Linked DNA regions of Homo sapiens: region 2 is linked to region 1. Evidence: fine-mapped expression QTL. A gene starts in region 1. The other region holds a variant in brackets. All regions are shown on one strand. Distances are from middle to middle.

Region 1 (5,369 bases):
CTGAGATTGTTTCCTGGCTTGTGTCACCCACCTGTATGAAATGAGAGGCAGCTGCAGAAGTACCTTTCCCTAAAATCCAGATTTACTGAACCCATAAAGTAGGGGGTTAAGTTTCCCTAGCAAGGGTCCAGTAGGGGTTAAGTTTCCCTAGTGGTGGCCTGTGCCATAAATGCTACTGGACCCTCACTAGGGGCAGCTGCCAGGCAGACTCTTTTCGTAGTATCAGCACGGACTGACAGACAAAATGCTGCAGGTGTGAGCAGTCTCGTTCCTATTTTACAGACAGGAGAGCTTGAGATTCAGAAGTCATGGGACTTGCCTAAGGTCACACAGACAGAACCCAGGCCCAGTATGAAAGCCATGGGGCTTCCTATTCACCACGCTGCTCCTATGGCAAAGATTCTTCTAATAAACTTAACCCCTATGTTATGGGTTCAGTAAATCTGGATTTTAGAACCATTCTTAAAGAGGGTTATTCTTAAACCAGGGTAGTATAAAAACAATCACAAACATTTGATTTCACCCAACCAAGTCTCCTTCTCTAACCTAGAGAATTTCGAGCTTCCAGAGCCCTCAGAGATCCACTCCAGCCTCCTTGTTTTGCAGGTGAGGAGGCTGAGGCCTCCGGGATGAAGTGACTCATCTAAACTAGCTGGTGGCAGCCCCATGGAACTCACTCCAGGGGTCTAAATTCCCATCCCCCAAAACAACCCAGGCCCTGCCTTTTCAGGAAGTGGAGTGAACCCGAATCCACATCACGGTGGGAAGAACAGGGAGCTGCAGATCCCCTGTGGGCCTTTGGATGGGTTCTCTGCTGCCAGGGATGATCGTCTAAACAAACACTCAGGAGGGAAGCCACTGAATAAACCAGCTCCAACACTTAAATAGCTGGATGCTCTGGGGTGTCATGAACGCCACACTGCCATCAAAATGAGGGACTCCGGAAGTTAGGGTAGGACAAAAGGCCATTCCAGAGAATGCACAGCAAGTGGTTCTCCTATATACACACTCTGGAAGCCAGGAGCACTTCAGAGCAACGTGGGGACAATCCCACAGAGGCCAACACAGAGAGCATTCTCCAAGCCCAGCAACACCGAAGTCCAACCACGCACACTCTGCCAGACAGCGACCCCTCCTCCCGGAACTGAGCCTCACAGGCCCCCTATTGTTGTCAGCTTAAAAACTGAACTTTGCTGAGCAAACACACTCAGCTGTGTTCAAAAAATCAGTTTCTCTCAATACTTGGAAAACTGCAGCATGCATGCAGAAAGGCCAGTTGTAGGGGGTTTTGTTTGTTTTTTAAGCAAAGCCTTGGTCAGTACAGCTTTAGCCAACTGTAATAAAAAATAATAATACCCAGCACTGACTGTATTCTTCCAATGTCCTGTGGTTTTATAGCTTTTAAGAAAATAAAACTGAGGGAGAGTCACCCCCGAGCATTTGGAATCAAACAAGGATTCGGCTTTGTGGCATGCCTGGAGGAAGGATTGGTCTTGTAATAATTACCGCGATCACAGAGGGCCTTATGACAGCTGGCAGAGGCAATTAGCAATAAGGGGCGGGGGGAGGGTTTGGGGGAGGAGAAATTGAGGATCTAATAAAACAAAACATCCCCAGACCTGCAGGAGGCCAGATGTGGCAGGGCAAGATGGTGAGAGGTTCCTTCTTCAAGACGGGGCAGCTATTAACTGGTCTGACGTTTCACCGCCCCGTCCCTGGCCAAAATCACATTCAGAATCCACTAGTTGCCCTCATTTGTGTATGGACAGGGTGCCCCAACAACCCTCGGGCTGGTTTTTCCAAATCCTTCAGATACTTCCCCAGCTATAATTTGAGAGAGGAAGGCCCGCATATCTTATTTCTTCTTTACACTCCAGACTGTCTCCATCAGAACCCTTTAAACAGTTTCATCTTCCCACCAAAGGCTTGCTTCCCAGCATAATCCTTCCTAAGCCTAAATCCAATCTTTGGGGGGAAGCAGGGGGAGTCAGCGGGTAATTATTAATACATTTTAAGCAGCGAGCCTCCGTGGCAACGTGAAAGGAAAGCACCAAACGCCTGAATAACAAAAATGCAGTTTCAGCAACACTTTTTGAAAAGGCGGCAGACAAGACCTGAGAGGAGAGGAAAGGAAGGGACAGGACGGCGTCTGGGGCGTGAGGGGAACAGGGGACGGCAGGCCTGCGATCACGCTTCAGGGGAACCTCCTCCGTCACCCTGGCCCACGGGTGCTCGGCTCAGTCACACGGGGAAAAGTCCAGCTTGTGACTCGGTGGGACAACGAGTCCTGCGGCCCCGCAAACTGGAAATGGGGTGGGGGCGGAGAAGGGGGGAAAGGGGATGTCCGCGCGCAGCCCACCCCGCACGGGCCCCTCGAGCCTCCATCCCAGTTCCCACGACGCACCCGCCCCACAAATCCTGCCCAAGATGAGGGCTGGTCCCGGGTCCTCCGGCTGCCGCATCAGCGAGTGCAGGAGGGAGGGGAAGCCTCCAAGGGGGGCGACGCGGGCTCAAGGATGCAACTCGGCCAGGAGTACTGGGGCCCGGAGGGAGGTGTCCGGGCCCGCTCCTCGAGCCCAGCCTGGTCCCCGACCCACTTACCTCCAGGGTCCGTATCTCCTGCTGGGTGAGGTCGTTGGACACAGCGCACTTGGTGCGCAGCCCGCGCAGGCTGCCGATGGAGATGTCGATGAGCTTCTGGAGCTGCCCGCACTGCTGCAGCGCCCGGCTGGCCGCGGCCCCTGCGCCTCCCTCCGCGGCCGCCGCATCCCCCCCGCCACCGCCCTCCTTCTTCTCTCCCATCGCCGCCGCGCGCAGCGCTGCTCTATCCATGCCTCGGCATCGGGGCCGCGGCGGCCGAGGCTGGGAGCCCGGGGCGCGGGCGCCTCGGCAAGGAACCCCCGAGCCAGGAGAGCTGGACCAGGAGCGCCCCTCGGCGCTGCCCGAGCCGGGACGCCGGTAGAGCCGGCCGCTGAGTCTGCCGCTTCCACCCTCCCAGCCGCGGCAGCAAAGCGAAAGCCGCGGCGACCCGACGGCTGCGGCTCCCGGAGCCTTTAAGCGGCGGCGGGGGCTGGGTCAGGGCGGCCGGGCATGCTGGGACTTGTAGTCCACGCCGCGCACCTGCCGCCGGCCTCCGCCCTCGGGGCCCCGGACCGCGCCCGCGCCGCCCTCCCTGCCCTCCTCTCCCCTCCCCTCCCGGCGGCCGCGGCGAGGCAGGCGGTGAGGGCCGGCCCCAACCGGGAGCCCCGGGTGGAGCTGCTCCGCGCCAGCTCCTCCCCCAGGCGCCGAGAGTCGGGGGAGCAGCGTCTCCCCGTCCGCCTCCGTCCCCCACCCGGCCTAGGAGCTTCCCGCGACCCCCGGATGGGGCGGCGCCCCCTGGACGCCCGGCGGGTGTGCGTCCCGCAGTTCCTCAGCTGCAGCCCAGCCCTGGAAGATGGGGACCAGGGAGGTTCCAGGATTTGTATGTGGGTTTAGGGGCTGCCATCTAGTGGGAAGGGGCTTACAGCACTTCTGTAGCTGGCTCACAAAGCGCTCTACTCTGGACTGCCTGCGCCAAAACGATTGCTCAGGCTTGGAGAAAGACGAAGAGCTTTCTTCTGAACCACATTTACCTGCCAAAATAAGTGTCCCATTCCCCCGCCATTCCCAGCCCACCAAGCCAGCCCAGACACGGGGGACAGCACACTGAATTGTCGGTGGCTTCGGAGCAAGTGGCCAGGATTCAAATTCTGACTCCACCACGGTCTAGGGTGAGACTTTGGGCACGTTCGATTTCCAGTGAATGCCCGACTCTCCTCATCAAATAACTCTTTAATAGGGTTCCTATGAAGAATCAGTTAATACATGTACAGCACCTAGATTGATTACTGGCACATGTGGTCGCTGGATAAATGTTAGCAATTCTTACTATCTAACCTCAGATCTGAATGTGGCCCTGGACCCAGGTAGTGGCCATGGAGCAGTACAGTACTGCCAAGGACTGGTAGTCCTTTGTCCTCTGTGCATTTCTGTGCCTCCTAACCCAGCAATCAAGCCTTGCCCATCTGTTCACCCTCCTCTCCCATTAGTTCACCCCATGCGTTCTATTATCTGGCAAAACTGAAAAACCAAGTCTCTGATCAAAGCTCCCACACCTTCATGCTTTCGACATCTGTCAACCAGAAAAAATGTCTCCCCTCTCAATTTTCTCTTGTAAGCTGCTTGATTGCAGAAGCCACTAGCTATTGTACCCTCTTTATAGTGCCAGATACAGTGCATGGCACACAAGAAAGGCTCCAGCGTGCCTCAGGAGCTCTTTCAGCAGGTCCTATGGGATGTTTCTTTTACCTCTCAGGCCAGCCGAGGGTGTGTGTGTGTGTGTAGATAGACAGTTGTTTTTTTGGTTTTGTTTTTGTGTTTGAGGATGAGAATTGGACAGGAGGTGGGATCCAAACCTTGTAGACACTAAAACAATCAATAATGGATGGCAGTTTGTATTACACCTTCCTTTAATGTTTATATTACACCAGCCTTCGAAATAAATTAAGGGCTGGGCACCGTGGCTCATGCCTGTAATGCCAGCACTTTTGAGAGGCCAAGGGGGAAGGATCACTTAAAGCCAGGAGTTCGAGACCAGCCTGGGCAATGTGACAAGACCCTGTCTCTAAAAAAAATAATAAATTTTTAAAAATCAGGTCTAGGAAGCAAAACTATAACTTTAAAACTTGTTTTTGCAAATTAACCCCTCCTCGAGATTTTCCAAATGCAAGGAGGTTCCTCCCTAACCCCTGGCCTTTCCCATTGAGAGTCATTGATCCAGTCCTCACTCAACTTATAAAAAGACCGCCTGCACGATATTATGAATTTCTCAACCTGTTACCTTAACCCCATCCGACTCCTTGCAAAGTAGTAACTATTATGAAAGGGAAACTAGTTGTGGTTCTCAAACTTGAACATGCATCAGAATCACTTGGAGGGCTTGTTAATTCCCAGAACCATGGAGCTCACCTCTATAGTTTCTAATTTTGTAGATCAGAGGACAGGGCAGGAGAATCTGCATTTCTATCAGGTTCTCAGGTGGTACTGATGTGGTTAGTCTGAGCCCAGTCGCAAGTCTATACTTTGAGAAGCCTAGGCACAGAGGAAGGTCAGTGGGCAGAGAACTATCTCAAGGGACTATCCACAACCCAACCTGGCTGGTTCAGAGCCTCTGTCCAGCAGCCAGAGCTGCCAGGCTTGAACGACTCACTCATTCTAACACAATTCACAAAAGATTTTTTTTTTTTTGAAACAGGGTCTTGCTCTGTCACTCAGGCTGGAGTACAGTAGCATGATCATGGCTCAGTGCAGCCTCGACCTCCCAGACTCAGGCGATCCTCCCACCCCAGCTT
Region 2 (5,369 bases), 72 kb before region 1:
AGATGAAAGAGAGATAAAGTAACTGTCCAGGGTGGGAGGTGAACCTAGGCAATGTTACTCCACCATCCAAACCTGAGCCTTGAGTGCCACAGTGGCCTTTGTCACTGCAGCTCCTCAGGGCGCTGCTGGCTATATGCTGAAGTGCTCTCTGGAGCTCAACAGCATGCCCCAAGCAGCTGCTCAGAGGAGCAGGGCTGAAGCCACCTCCAGCACAGCACACATCTCAGCAGCCCCACAGGAGGGGTTCTCCCCCAAGCACTCGCCCACAGAACACAGGGGCCAGATCTTCCATGACGGATCCGAGTGTGGGACCAGGCAGAAAATGGACTCAGGTATTCACTACACCCCCTCCAGAGACCTGCAACATGTGACCAGGGCCACCCCCTCAGCTTACTGTCAGGGGAAAAGGTTTGCCAGGCAGCCCCTTCAAAGGCGTGGCCTCCCCGTCACCTGCACCTTCTGTAACCCTGGGCCTGTGAGGCAGAAGGGGGCCGCCCTGCAGTGCCAAGGCCATGACCCAGCAGGCAGGACTCTGCACCTTTGTGCACAGCCTCCTCGAGGTTCAACATCTTGAGCTTTCTTCCTGAAAAAGGAAGCTGTTTCTCAACATATTGCTACACATGGAGACTGAGAAACACAAACCGAGAGGCGAATAGGGCACTGGCCCCAAGGGAGGAGAATGAAGCGGGGAAGGGCTGGTATGGGCCAGTCTGCCTGAGGTAACCAGCCAAAGGGACAAGGAAACGCCCAGCACAAACTTGTCCATCCCGACATTGTTTACAAGAGGGACACAGTGCAAACAACCCAAAGCCCCAACAATGGAAGCACAGCTAAGGAGGTGATGGTAAAACCACTTACTAAACTATGACAGAGCCACTGAGCAGGTTTACAAAAACATAGGAAGTTTTTTGTGTTATTTTACTAAGCGACAGGCAGGACAAAAAAATCTACATGATGGATGGCAAGAACTACGTAAGCAAAACCTCGCACACAAAGTCTTTGCCTGGAAAACACAACTGAAAGAAAACACAGCAGAAATGTCATCTGTGAATGGGCTGATCTGAGTGGGAAGGCTATAGGTAATTATTTTCTTCCTTCTACTTTTCTGTGTTTTCCAAATGTTCTCTAATTACTGCGTACTGATTTTATAAGGCTATGAATGGGAATAATACATTTTAAAATGTCACAAGAGGAAAAGGGAGGGTGCTGGTGCTTCTCTTCTAGCAAAGGGAGAAAGGTCCAGGAGCCCACGGTAGACGTACTATTTGGAGCCGATCCCTGCTCAGGCCGCCATGCCCAGCCTCACCACTAAGGTCGGCTTTGCTGGTTACTCCATCTGCCCTGCTGGGTCTTTTTTTTTTCTTTTGAGACAGGGTCTCACTCTGTTGCTTAGGCTGGAGTGCGGTGGTGTAATCACGGCTCAGTGTAGCCTCGACCTCCCAGGCTCAAACGATCCTCCCACCGCAGCCTCCTGAGTACCCGGGACCACTGCCACACACAACTACACCCAACTAATTTTTGTATTTTTTGTACAGACAGGGTTTCACCATGTTGCCCAGGCTGGTCTCAAACTCCTGGGCTCCAGCGATCCACCCACATCAGCCACCCAAAGTGCTGGGACTGCGCCCAGCCCCTGCTGGGTCTTTAGATGGAGCAAAACCTCACTGATTCCAAAGGCAAAGATGCGGAAAGGAAGAGAGCAATTTCATAAGGTGGCATTAAACTCATTTTGCTGACGGGTGTGGGATGGGTTGGTTGGTTTGTTAAGAACAGTGTGTGTCCATCTATCCATCCATTCAAGAGTATCGAGTACCCACTAGTTACCCAGTATGGTGCCAAGGCCCTGCAAACAACACAGAAATGAATGACCCATCTCCTACCCTAAAGACCTCAGATTCAAGTGGGGGCCAAAGATATCAAGTTGCAATGCAAAAGTGTCTTTGACAAGGGTTTTCAGATACACACAGGCTGTGAGAATTCAGATATGAAAATTAAAGCTTCCAGCTTCAGAGAAAAGACGGGTGTCGGGAAAGAGTTCATGGAAAAGATGAGCTTTGAATTGGGTCTTGAAGAATGACTGGGGTTGCACAAACAAGTCAGTTAAACAGGCCAAGGAAATATACATGTTTATCTCAAAGGAAAGTTACCTCTGCCGGCAACCATAACAAACCTCCCACCTTAATAATAAGCAAGGAAATACAAAATGGAAACATATGGGCAGATGTTTGGCAACATTGGCAGAGGGACTCCCCAGTGTGGCTGTGGCAGGAGCATGGCAGGAGCGTGGAGCGGCATCGCCCCCCTGGAGGGCAGCAGAGAAACAGGATGATGCAACAGAAGCCTCACCAGG[T/C]GGCCCTCACCCCTTGAGCCAGACTCCACTTCTAGGAATTTATCCTAAAGAAACAATTAAGTGTAAGCATAAGCCTATTCACGGAAGTGTAACTTAAAATAGCCAAACATGGGGAAGTAGGTAACTACATTCTGGTGTGTCAATCACAGAACACTATGAGGCAACTTTTTTTTTTTAAGTCCCTTTTAACAGTGTACTTAATCATATGAGGCAATGCCCATAATCTTCTAGAAAGTTAACAACTCAAGGTAAGAAAACTACATTTGCAGTATGATCTTCACATATCTTTTTTATTTTAATTTAAGGCATTAATTTTCTTTTTTCAACTTTGAGGTCAATTTCTATTTTTATAGCAAAATTAACATCTCAAAATGTAAACACTGGAAAGTTTTATTATTTACTTTTTTGTATTTTTAAAGAACGGGTGTCATTTTTATAATCATAAAATGTTATCCAAACTGAAAGAATAATAAATGGAGTTTTTTTATCCAATAGGTTTTTGGGGAACAGGTGGTGTAAGTTTTGTTTTGGGATTTTTGTGGTTTTTTTTTCCAGTAGAGACAGGGTCTCTCTTGTCACCCAGGGTGAAGTGCAGTGGCATGACCGTAGCTCACTGCAACCTCACACTCCCAGGCTCAAGCAATCCTCCCACCTCAGCCTCCTGAGTAGCTGGGGTTACAGGTGAACACCACTATACCCAGCTAACTTTTTTTATTTTAATTTTTGTAGAGGCAGAGTCTCACCATCTTGCCCAGGCTGGTCTCAAGCTCCTGGGCTCAAGAGATCCTCCTTTCTCAGCCTCCCAAAGCACTGGGATTACAGACGTGAGCCACTATGCCTGGCCCAGAAATGGAGTTTCAATAGGAAGAGAAGAGGACATCCTCAGCTTAAAAAAACAGCAGGAGCCAGAAGTGAAGAAGTACAGGTCTCTCCTGGGAAGGAGAAAGAACTGAACATCATGATTAGACAGAGCTGGGCTCACATACTGGATCCACTCTTTTCTAGCGGTGTGACCTTTAACAAATTACTGATCCATTCCTGAGCTTCAGTTTCTTCCAAAGACCAAATGTGTTAAAGACTAAACGTGTTAACTTGGCCAGGCACAGTGGTTCACACCCGTAATCCCAGCACTTTGGGAGGTTGAGGTGGGCAGATCACCTGAGGTCAGGAGTTTGAGACCAGCCTGGCCAACATGGTGACACCCTCTCTCTACTAAAAATACAAAAATTAGCCAGGCATGGTGGCACGCACCTGTAATCCCAGCTACTCAGGAGGCTAAGGAACAAGAATTGCTTGAACCCCAGTAGGCAGAGGTCGCAGTGAGCCGTGATGGCACCACTGCACTCCAGCCTCGGCAACAGAGTGAGACTTCATCTCAAAAATAATAAAAAACAAAATAAATGCATTAACTTACACAGAATACCTACTCGATACACTAATTAGGTCATAGCCTTTTCTACTGACCAATAAAACAAATTCCATCCTGGATGACCCACAAGAGGTAGGGATGTTCATTTATGAGACACATAATCAATGTAATAACAGCATTTGGGGAGAGCAAAGAATTACTACATTAAAGACATCGTACAAAGCCTCCCAATTTCAGAAATATTAAACTATGAAATATATCCTAAAATCAAGAAACTATGAAAATTTGTGTCTTCTAAAGATACTGCTGACCAGGATAAAACATTTGGTGAAAGCCCAAGATATTATTGTTTTTCTCATGATTCTTATACAGTCTGATTTGTGCCCCAAACAAGAAGTCAGGCCGGGCATGGCTCACGCCTGTAATCCCAGCACTTTGCGAGGCCAAGGTGGGTGGATCACTTGAGGTCAGGAGTTCAAGGCCAGCCTGGCCAACATGGTAAAACCCCATCTCTACTAAAATACAAAAATTAGCCAGGCTTGGTGGCTGGTGCCTGTAGTCCCAGCTACTCGGGAGGCTGAGGCAGGAGAATCGCCAGGAGGCGGAGGTTGCAGTGAGCCAAGATCACGCCATTGCACTCTAGCCTAGGTGACAGAGCAAGACTTTGTCTCAAAAAAGAAAAAAAAGGGGGGGGGGGGGGCGGGTGTGCCACTGCAGTGTCTCCTTTTGTTATCCAGGCTGGAGTGCAGTGGTGCAAACATGGCTCACTGTAGCCTTGACCTCTTGGGCTTAAGCAGTCCTCCTACCTCAACTTCCCAAGTAGCTGGGATTACAGGATAGCTGGCGGCCAGGGGAAATATAGTGGAAAATGCAAAACAATGAAATTATAAAACCTGCCAAATACTTCTCAGAACTAGAAAAGAGTACCCTGCTGATTTTAGTAGAAAAGTACAAATATGTGCTGGAATGTAAGAAAAGTGATGTGTGAACTATTGCCCTTAAGCAATCAATGTACCTGCAGGCGCTGACCCACGAATGCAACTCTCAGCCGAGCTGTCCCTGCCGGATTTCAAACAGCTGAAGAAGGGCTGGGAGAACATCAAGGCTTGGACTAAAACAATTATGGCCCATGAAAGGAGAGAGAAGGTGAAAGGGAGCGTCAGCCCCCTCCTGAGTAACCAAGTCCTAGGGAAGGAGATCACCAGCATGCTGCTGGAGCAGCTCTACTTCCTGCAGAGCACTCCTTCCACCCCTCCCCCCGGAGGAGGAGCCCAAATACCACGCCACGGCCCAAGAATCATTTGCTGTTTCAAATAGAGAACTGTGCGATGATGAGAAAGAGTTCATACGTTTTCCAACACGTGAGAGGACCTCTCAACCTGAACCCTCGTGTTCAGCTGTCAGAATAACAGCCAATAAAAACTACATGAGCAAAATCTCTCAGGAAGGTGCTTTAAAAAAGATGCACGAGGACTGAACATGATCAACAAATGTCCATCTTACAATTGCAACTGATACAAATGAATGAGGTGCATTGTGGCCAAAATCCAGCAGACAGAGCGAGAGTGTGAGATGGCAGAGGAGGAACACAGGATAAAAATGAAGTTCTCAATAAAGAGAAGATGTATTGGGAAAAAAAACTACAAACTT

Alleles and levels. Alleles are on the strand shown, and positions count from the first base shown. SD is a standard deviation of normalised expression in the study named.
For the expression in monocytes of the gene that starts at base 3,028 in region 1, allele T in region 2 goes with a higher level than allele C (moderate effect, 0.64 SD a copy in Quach 2016).

What was found.
Region 2: its variant is fine-mapped to the expression of KSR1 in monocytes (TOPMed, PIP 0.97). The same link has a PIP of 0.9 or more in blood mononuclear cells.

What each region holds. Positions count from the first base shown.
Region 1 is chr17:27,454,107-27,459,475 of GRCh38, reverse strand. It overlaps KSR1 (kinase suppressor of ras 1), which reads right to left and starts at 3,028. Exons shown (of 21, transcript NM_001394583.1): 1 at 2,602-3,028. The coding sequence starts at 2,832. RefSeq lists silencers at 2,169-2,218, 2,739-3,498 and an enhancer at 2,862-3,363.
Region 2 is chr17:27,526,442-27,531,810 of GRCh38, reverse strand. The region is part of intron 1 of KSR1 (kinase suppressor of ras 1); the gene reads right to left. It also overlaps the pseudogene MSANTD3P1. Among named protein-coding and RNA genes, the nearest start is that of KSR1, 73 kb to the right of the region's middle. The variant T/C (reference allele first, on the strand shown) is at 2,351.